Homo sapiens: one gene and its partner. The protein of the gene in region 2 purifies or fractionates together with the protein of the main gene of each other region. This does not show direct contact. Each region holds a gene or a part of one and is shown on either strand. Other genes may lie near its edges.

Region 1 (3,820 bases), on a different chromosome or scaffold from region 2:
GACCCTTGGTGTTGATCCTTGTGTCACGGGGAACCAGGTCCTGGAACCGCCTGGTGCCACCTCGGTGTGACCTGGATGTGTCCCGTCCCCATCCTCCTCAGAGGGTGGCCGCCTGGCGTGGCGCAGGATGATGCTCTGAGCCGGGTTGCCCAGCACGTGTTAGGGTCCTGGGTGGAGAGGACCTTTGGGAAGCAGCAGCCGGGCTGACGAGGGTCCGGATGCCTGCCCGGGGACCAGCGAGGTTCCGGGCGCCTGCCCGGGGGTCAGCTGGGCCGGCCGGATGTTTCTGGTGGAGACCTGGGAGGTGAGGCGGTGGGCTGCCGGCGGTCCCTCCCTGGCTGTGCAGAAGCTGCGGTGGAGTGTGAGCTGGACCTGGGGGTGCCCGGCCTGATGGGAAGGTGGCAGAGGCTGTGTGACATGGAGATAGGTCGTGAGGGCCCCAAGTCCGCCCCTTTGTCCCTGTGGGTCCCTCACTCTGGGAACCTCGGGCTGCTGAGGACTGAGACGTGCAGTGCCCTCCCCCTGGTGGAGCGGCCACCCAGCCAGCCACCGCAGAATTCTTGGCCCTCAGGCACTGCAGAAGAGCGAAAGCCCTGGCTGTGGGTCCCAGGTGTGGCTGGCAGTGGCCGGCGGCAGGCAGAGGCCCTGTCACCATGGGTGAGGTGTGGAGGTGCTAAGGCTAAGATCCCATCCTAGTTTTAACCTTCAAAAATATCATTCATGGTTTTTTCTTTGTTCATGAATACAAACCAGGGTGTATACATTGTGTAGTATTCAGAAAATACAAAACAGAAAGCACAGAGGCACCGTCGGCAGAGCAGCCAGGCCCTCACACGTGCATCTGCCTGGTTTTGAGAAGGGACCTTGCACCGTGCAGCGTGATCCCCTTAGGGCAACGCGACTTTATGCTGCTCTGTGAACCCTTTCCCATGCCATTAAGTATTTTTATAAAACATGGTTTTTAAATGCTGTTTATCATTCATCAGATTCTACCTTGTGTGATCAGAACTGGGGTCCTTGGGAAAGCCCACCCTTGATGGGGGACTGTTGGCCCCAGCCCCGTCTGTGATGGTGACCCCAACATGTGCTGTTGGCACCTCCCAGAAAGGGTTCCCCAGAGCCCATGGGCCACCTGACCCGTCCTTGCAGCTGTCCCATGGTACATCCATGTGTTGTGGGCAGTGAGCTGCAGGGAGGTGGGGTGCACAGAGAAGCTTGCCGCAGAGCTAAAACCAACACGGTGAACAGGGAAGGTGTCCTTCAAAACCGCAGCCTGGGCAGGAGCAGTGGCTCCTGCCTGTAATCCCAGCACTTTAGGAGACCGAGGCAGGCTGATCACCTGAGGTCAGGAATTCGAGACCAGCCTGGCGAACATGGAGAGACCCTGTCTCTACTAAAATTACAAAAATTAGCTGTGCATGCCTGTAATCCCAGCCACTCAGGAGGCTGAGGCAGGAAAACGGTTTGAACCCGGGAGGCGGAGGTTGCAGTCAGCTGAGATCGCCCCACTGCACTCCAGCCTGGGCAACAGAGCAAGACTCCATCTCAAAAAACAGAAAAAAAAAAAACAAACCTGTGACAGGCCCAGCGCAGTGGCTCACGCCTGTAATCCCAGCATTTTGAGAGGCCGAGGTGGGCGGATTGCTTGTGGTCAGGAGTTCAAGACCATCCTGGCCAACATGATGAAACCGCGTCTCTACTAAAAATACAAAAATTAGCTGGGCGTGGTGGCAGGCACCTGTAATCCCAGCTACTCGGGAGGCTGAGGCAGGAGAATCACTTGAACCCTGGAGGCAAAGCTTGCAGTGAGCCGAGATCGCCCCCCTGCACTCCAGCTTGGGCGACAAAGTGAGATTCCGTCTCAGCCTGGACAACAGAGCGAGACTCCATCTCAAAAACATAAAAACAAACATACAAAGAAACCCTGCGACCTACGTGGAGCCCACGGGGGCCAAACATGCCAGCACCCCCCTGGAGTGGCGGTGTGGGACCCCACACCTGTCACACCTGCTGGCCTCCTTCTCCATCTCCTGTGCAATATCCCTGGAAAGTTACTTTTTGTGTTTAAAATTGGTCATGTTAATTGTTAAGGAAAGGAACAATCCTTAAGTTAAATTGGTAAGTTTAAAAAAACGAAAGACAGACCGCAACAGGCGTTGGTGAGGCTGTGGAGAAATCAGAACCCTCGTGTGTTATCGATGCTAGCGTAAAATGGCACGTCCACTGTGGAAACAGTCTGGTAGTTCCTCAAAAAGCTAAACATAGAAACACCGAGACTCAGCAGCTCCAGTCCTAGGAATGTGTGTCCCCAGATCAGTGAAAACACACTCCACACAGAAACATGCACACAGCTGTTCACAGCAGCACTGTTTATAACAGCCAGACAAGGGGGTGCGGCCCGAATGTCTGCTGGACAAACAGCCCGTGGTCTGTGCACACAGTGGGGCAGGACTCAGCCACGGAAAGGCAGTTCCAGCACATGCTGCTGCAGGGATGAGTTTTGAAGACACCATGCCAAGTGAGGTCAGTCAGCCACAAGAGAACAGAACCTTGGCCGGGCGCGGTGGCTCACGCCTGTAATCCCAGCACTTTGGGAGGCCAAGGGAGGTGGATCACGAGGTCAGGAGATCGAGACCATCCTGGCTAACACACAGTGAAACCCCGTCTCTACTAAAAATACAAAAATTAGCCGGGCGTGGTGGCGGACGCCTGTAGTCCCAGCTACTCGGGAGGCTGAGGCAGGAGAATGGCGTAAACCCGGGAGGCAGAGCTTGCAGTGAGCCGAGATGGCACCACTGCACTCCAGCCTGAGCAACAGAGTGAGACTCCGTCTCAAAAAAAAAAAAAAAGAAAAAAAAAACAACAGAACCTGTGTGGTCTCCTTTATAGGAAATGCCCAAAATAGAAAGATTCACAGAGACACAAAATGGCCAGGGGCTGAGGAGGGGCAGAGGGAGTAATTGTTGATGGGCACATGGTTGGTTGTCTTTGGGGCAATGAAAATGTTCTGGGCTGAGGCAAGTGGATCACGTGAGGTCAGGAGTTCAAGACCAGCCTGGCCAAACATGGCAACACCCCGTCTCTACCAGAAATATAAAACTTAGCCGGGTGTGGTAGTGGGCGCCTGTAGTCCCAGCTACTCAGGAGACTTAGGCACAAGAATCACTTGAGCCAGGAGGCGGTTACAGTGAGCTGGGATCGCACCACTGCACTCCACCCTGGGTGACAGAGCGAGACCCTGTCTCAAAAAAAAAAAAAAAAAAAAGCTAGGCCAGGCGCGGTGGCTCATGCCTGTAATCCCAACACTTTGAGAGGCTGATGCGGGCAGATCACAAGGTCAGGAGATCAAGACCATCCTGGCTAACACGGTGAAACCCCGTCTCTACTAAAAATACAAAAAATTAGCCGGGCGTGGTGGCAGGCGCCTATAGTCCCAGCTACTCGGGAGGCTGAGGCAGGAGAATGGCGTGAACCCGGGAGGCGGAGCTTGCAGTGAGCCAAGATCACGCCACTGCACTCCAGCCTGGGCGACGGAGTGAGACTCCGTCTCAAAAAAAAAAGTTCTGGAGTTGGATAGTGGTGATGGTGACTCATGTATGTGAACATGTTGAAAACACCGAGTTGTAACTTTGAGGGTAAATTTTATGGTATGTGAATTATATCTCAAAGTTATAGAGCAGTTACTGAGGCTGGGTGTGGTGGCTCACGCCTGTAATCCCAGCACTTAGGGAGGTTGAGGCAGGAGGATTACCGAGCTCAGGAGTTTGAGACCAGTCTGGGTGACGTAGTGAGACCCCATCTCTACAAAAAATACCCCTCC
Region 2 (3,820 bases):
GAAAGTGTTTCCAGTGAACTGAATATTCTACACCATTCAGAACATGACAGACTTCTTACTTAAGGTCATTCCGTACACTCAAACAAAGGCATGGAATTGGAAAGGATTCTATTAGATTGGCAGAAATACTTTTCTTAGTCTTAGGCTCATTTCACCTGTGGAAACCCCTTTAATCTGTCAAGTAGAACAGTATCCTCAGATGTGTCAAGGTGGGATTTTATGCAAGAAAATATGAGAGACAAATTGATAATGACAACTTCAATAAAGTATTCTGCCTGAATAGAAGTTACACAACTGAATTTATGTGAAATAATAAAAAATGTGTGTACTAAAATGAGATAAGATTCATTCAAAAACATCAAATTAAAGAAAGAATTGTCTCTGAGTCATATTATACTCCTGGAGCTCTGAGGATTTAGGATCATTTTATTTAGCTAGAGTGTTAAGATGTTTTCAAATAAATTCAGCAAAACTCAAGTTTCAGAGAAAAGTTTTAGTTCCACAATGAAAGTCTCTCTGGAAAACCTAAGACCAATTTAGAGGGGTCTTTGCTGAATTACCTTAAAAGAATGCATTGTGCTTGCTTTTCTTCGTTTAGAAAGCCAGGAGTCCAGCATATACATTATCTGAAGGACTTAGCAAAATTTCTAGATCAAAAACATAAGTAATATTTTGCTAAATCCCCAATTTGACATTTCTCAACTTTCACTAAAATGCTGATAAAAGCACAGTAAAAATATTGTTTTAAGAGTACATTTCTAATAAACTCAGTTATACCTCAAAAACTATAGTAAGAACATATATACTTGCTTAAAGAGTACACTTTGCCAGAAATTTCAGGCCTTCTAAGCACCTCTTCCAAATTTCAATGGAGCACAATGGAGATGGCACAGAGGGTGCCCGAAAGCCAAGGATCAGGTGCTCCAGCAGTTCTGATGCTGCAGAAAGAACAAAGGCCACGGCGCCGGACTTGCTTAATGTGTGTGAGGAAGTGCGGAATGAAAGAATGTTTATAAGATGCTCTGAGTTCCCTGAAGACATTACTATATAGTTTAGGGCCTCAACTTTAGGGGCTCTAGTATTAAGTAGCATTTTTGCTTTATGAAGTGTTAATAATCCATGAATTGTCAATTCTATAGCCCTTCAACTAATTTAACTGTGGCAGAATGTATGAGATGAAATCGTTAAAACCATTAGATCTCTTTAGTGGCTAATCCTTTTCATAAAGGAAAGCAAAAATATTACCTGTCTCTGCACTACATTGATATAATAGTAGGAATATTCAGTGCATAAATTGGGGGTTAGAAAAGCCTTCATTTTTGCTTTTCAATGTGTGAATTATATTTTCAAAGAAGATTTAACTTCAAACCCATTACTCCTCATAATGCATTTAAATGTAAATCTTCTTTGAAAGAAGAAATAAAGATATTCACATTTACATGAATGTATGAAATGGATGGACTGTATTCTTCAGGCACTCCTAATTCTAAGAGGGAATTTAGGGATTCAAGAAGACCCTGCGATATCACCTTAGTAAGTGATGTCTTAGGAAAGTAAATTTTCCGATACATAAAATTTCCTTAGCTTAAAAGAGAGAACCTGCCACATAACCTGCCTTCAATCCACAAAGAGATGTGAGAAACAAGTGTCAACAGGGCAGGACCCGGCAAAAACTTATAAAATCATGTCTCATAAAACTCTCATAGCAACAGTATTGCTCTTAATGCTAAAGTACATAAAATCCACACCATGTAAGTAATAGTGTTTAGGAAGAATGATTGAAATATGCTCCAGAATATTATTAACAAGAATAATAGTAACAGAGCACACCACAGTTACTACAGAATTAGCACCACAGTTATTACAGAAAAAAAAAATACTGGACTTGGATTTGGAAGACTTGGGTTCTAACCTCAATTTGAGACTTGCTCATGAGGTTTCCAGCAGTCACCTAGCTTCACACAGCTGGTTACCTATTTTACCAAAGAACCCTCTATTTTTAGGTCTCCACCCTACCGCAGTCTCTTAGTCAATCTGATTTCTGACTAAGATGGGAAGTATGGAGAGTGGCTCTGCCCACTAGGCAGTGGAGCTTGAAATCTAGCCACAATTTCCACTGCTGGGGTTGAACAGCTCACACTTTATAGCTGGGTTCTTGCCATTACTAAATGTCTAATTTCCTTTATTTCCAATAGATGTATGATCAAGTGTGCCATGAGCAACCACTGTGTTTTAACTTCTGCATTGCAGAACTCCTTCTTTGGTTCCCTCTCCACTCAGCATTCTTTCTGAGTCTTGTCGGATGTCCCCAGATCTTTGAGATCTTCCCTGAATTCTTGGTCAACCCTAAGTAAATAAATAATTCTTCCCTAACTAGCCTCCATAAGCCCTCTCTTTCAGGTGTTAGATACTTTTCCCCTTAATCTATGTCTCCTTGAAGGATTTCAAAATGCTGAAAAATCCACCTGCTGAATTCTACAGCCAGCTTTCCTCTGAGACTATGCCTTACTTACCAGATTGGCTGTCATTTTCCACTGCATTCATAAAAGTCACTTGAGTTCATTATGAATTTAGACATTCTGCCATGTCAATATTTGCACATCTATTAGTTCTTCCCATGTCCTATCTTATGCCTAATAATGGAGCCTCTGCCACCTGCTTATCCCTGCTCTGCCAAATCCTATGCCAGAGGTCCCTGCATTCTTCCAACAAAACCCACATGGATTTTCACAATGAGAACCAAGCAACATCATGAATGTGAAATGTAGCATGCACTTTGTAGGCGGTATTGGTTGTTGATAGAGGCGCTATGGCTGCACTCTGGTTCTGTTCTTCTTGGGTTTGTTTCCTTTCTTGGGTCTCCATTCCCAGATTCCACATTCACAATTATTTTCAAGGGTTAAAATGATCAGATGTAAGATGTGAGTTTTCTCAGAACCTTGCTACTTATCTAACATAAATGTGATGTCCTGCAGATGTTACTATAAAACTTACTCTTTGATGCCTTCTAACAATTTGAAGTTTAAGTTATCTTCACTCCTGTCAAAGAAACCCTTGTTGTCTATAAAAACCAAATGCCTTGGGTCATGCTTTCGCTGGATAATGTGTGCTAGAGCCGCAGAACCTTGGTCATCACATTTTGGCCTCAATCCATTCTGTACACAGGCATCTTCCTTGCGAGGTCTGAATCCACAGCAATTTGTATCTAAGCGATTATAAATCTGTAAATGGAAAACACAAAATCCAAGATGCTGAGTGAAAACAAAACTTGGGAAAGTTACAAGATTTTCAAAGATCAGTGCTTTCTGAATAGCTGACTTGCCAGAATCTAAGAGGGCCAGGCTCATTTAATTAAAGGCAACTGTCAGAACAAGTCCAAGGTTCATATCCTTCTGACTCAGTCATAGTTATAAGCATTTCCAGCTTCTGCTAATAGATCCAAAGTCAGATTATCCAAGTTAGGCATCTCCACCCTAAATATTCAAAGTTCCCACTGACATCACATACAGACACATGGCCAGCACAATCTCTGACTCCACGCACAGCAGAAGAAACACCATTGTACTTCTATGTGTCTGGAAGGCTCTGTCTTGTTTTCTCCCTCAGGTGGCTTATGGGAAATTGGAGTTACTTCATTGCCACAAAAAGTTTATTGCATCCCCTAGCCTATCTGGACTTCAGTATTACAGTAAGCTAACTTGAAATCACATAGAAGAAATCTATTGAAAAGATGTGAGACCAAATCATAAAACCTAAAAGCACTATCTAAATGGAGGCCACAGCTAGATTCTAAACATATGAACAAAATGGGCCTACTGAA

Evidence for each region.
Region 1: the proteins of GASK1B (region 2) and EXD3 purify together in Homo sapiens (affinity purification with mass spectrometry; one large-scale study listed by BioGRID and IntAct). This does not show direct contact.

Annotation. Positions count from the first base shown.
Region 1 is NC_000009.12:137,412,949-137,416,768, reverse strand, and holds part of EXD3 (exonuclease mut-7 homolog), read left to right. Parts: intron 1-3,820. UniProt on the Homo sapiens protein: Possesses 3'-5' exoribonuclease activity. Required for 3'-end trimming of AGO1-bound miRNAs.
Region 2 is NC_000004.12:158,127,792-158,131,611, forward strand, and holds part of GASK1B (Golgi-associated kinase 1B), read right to left. Parts: intron 3,222-3,820; coding exon 2,995-3,221; intron 1-2,994.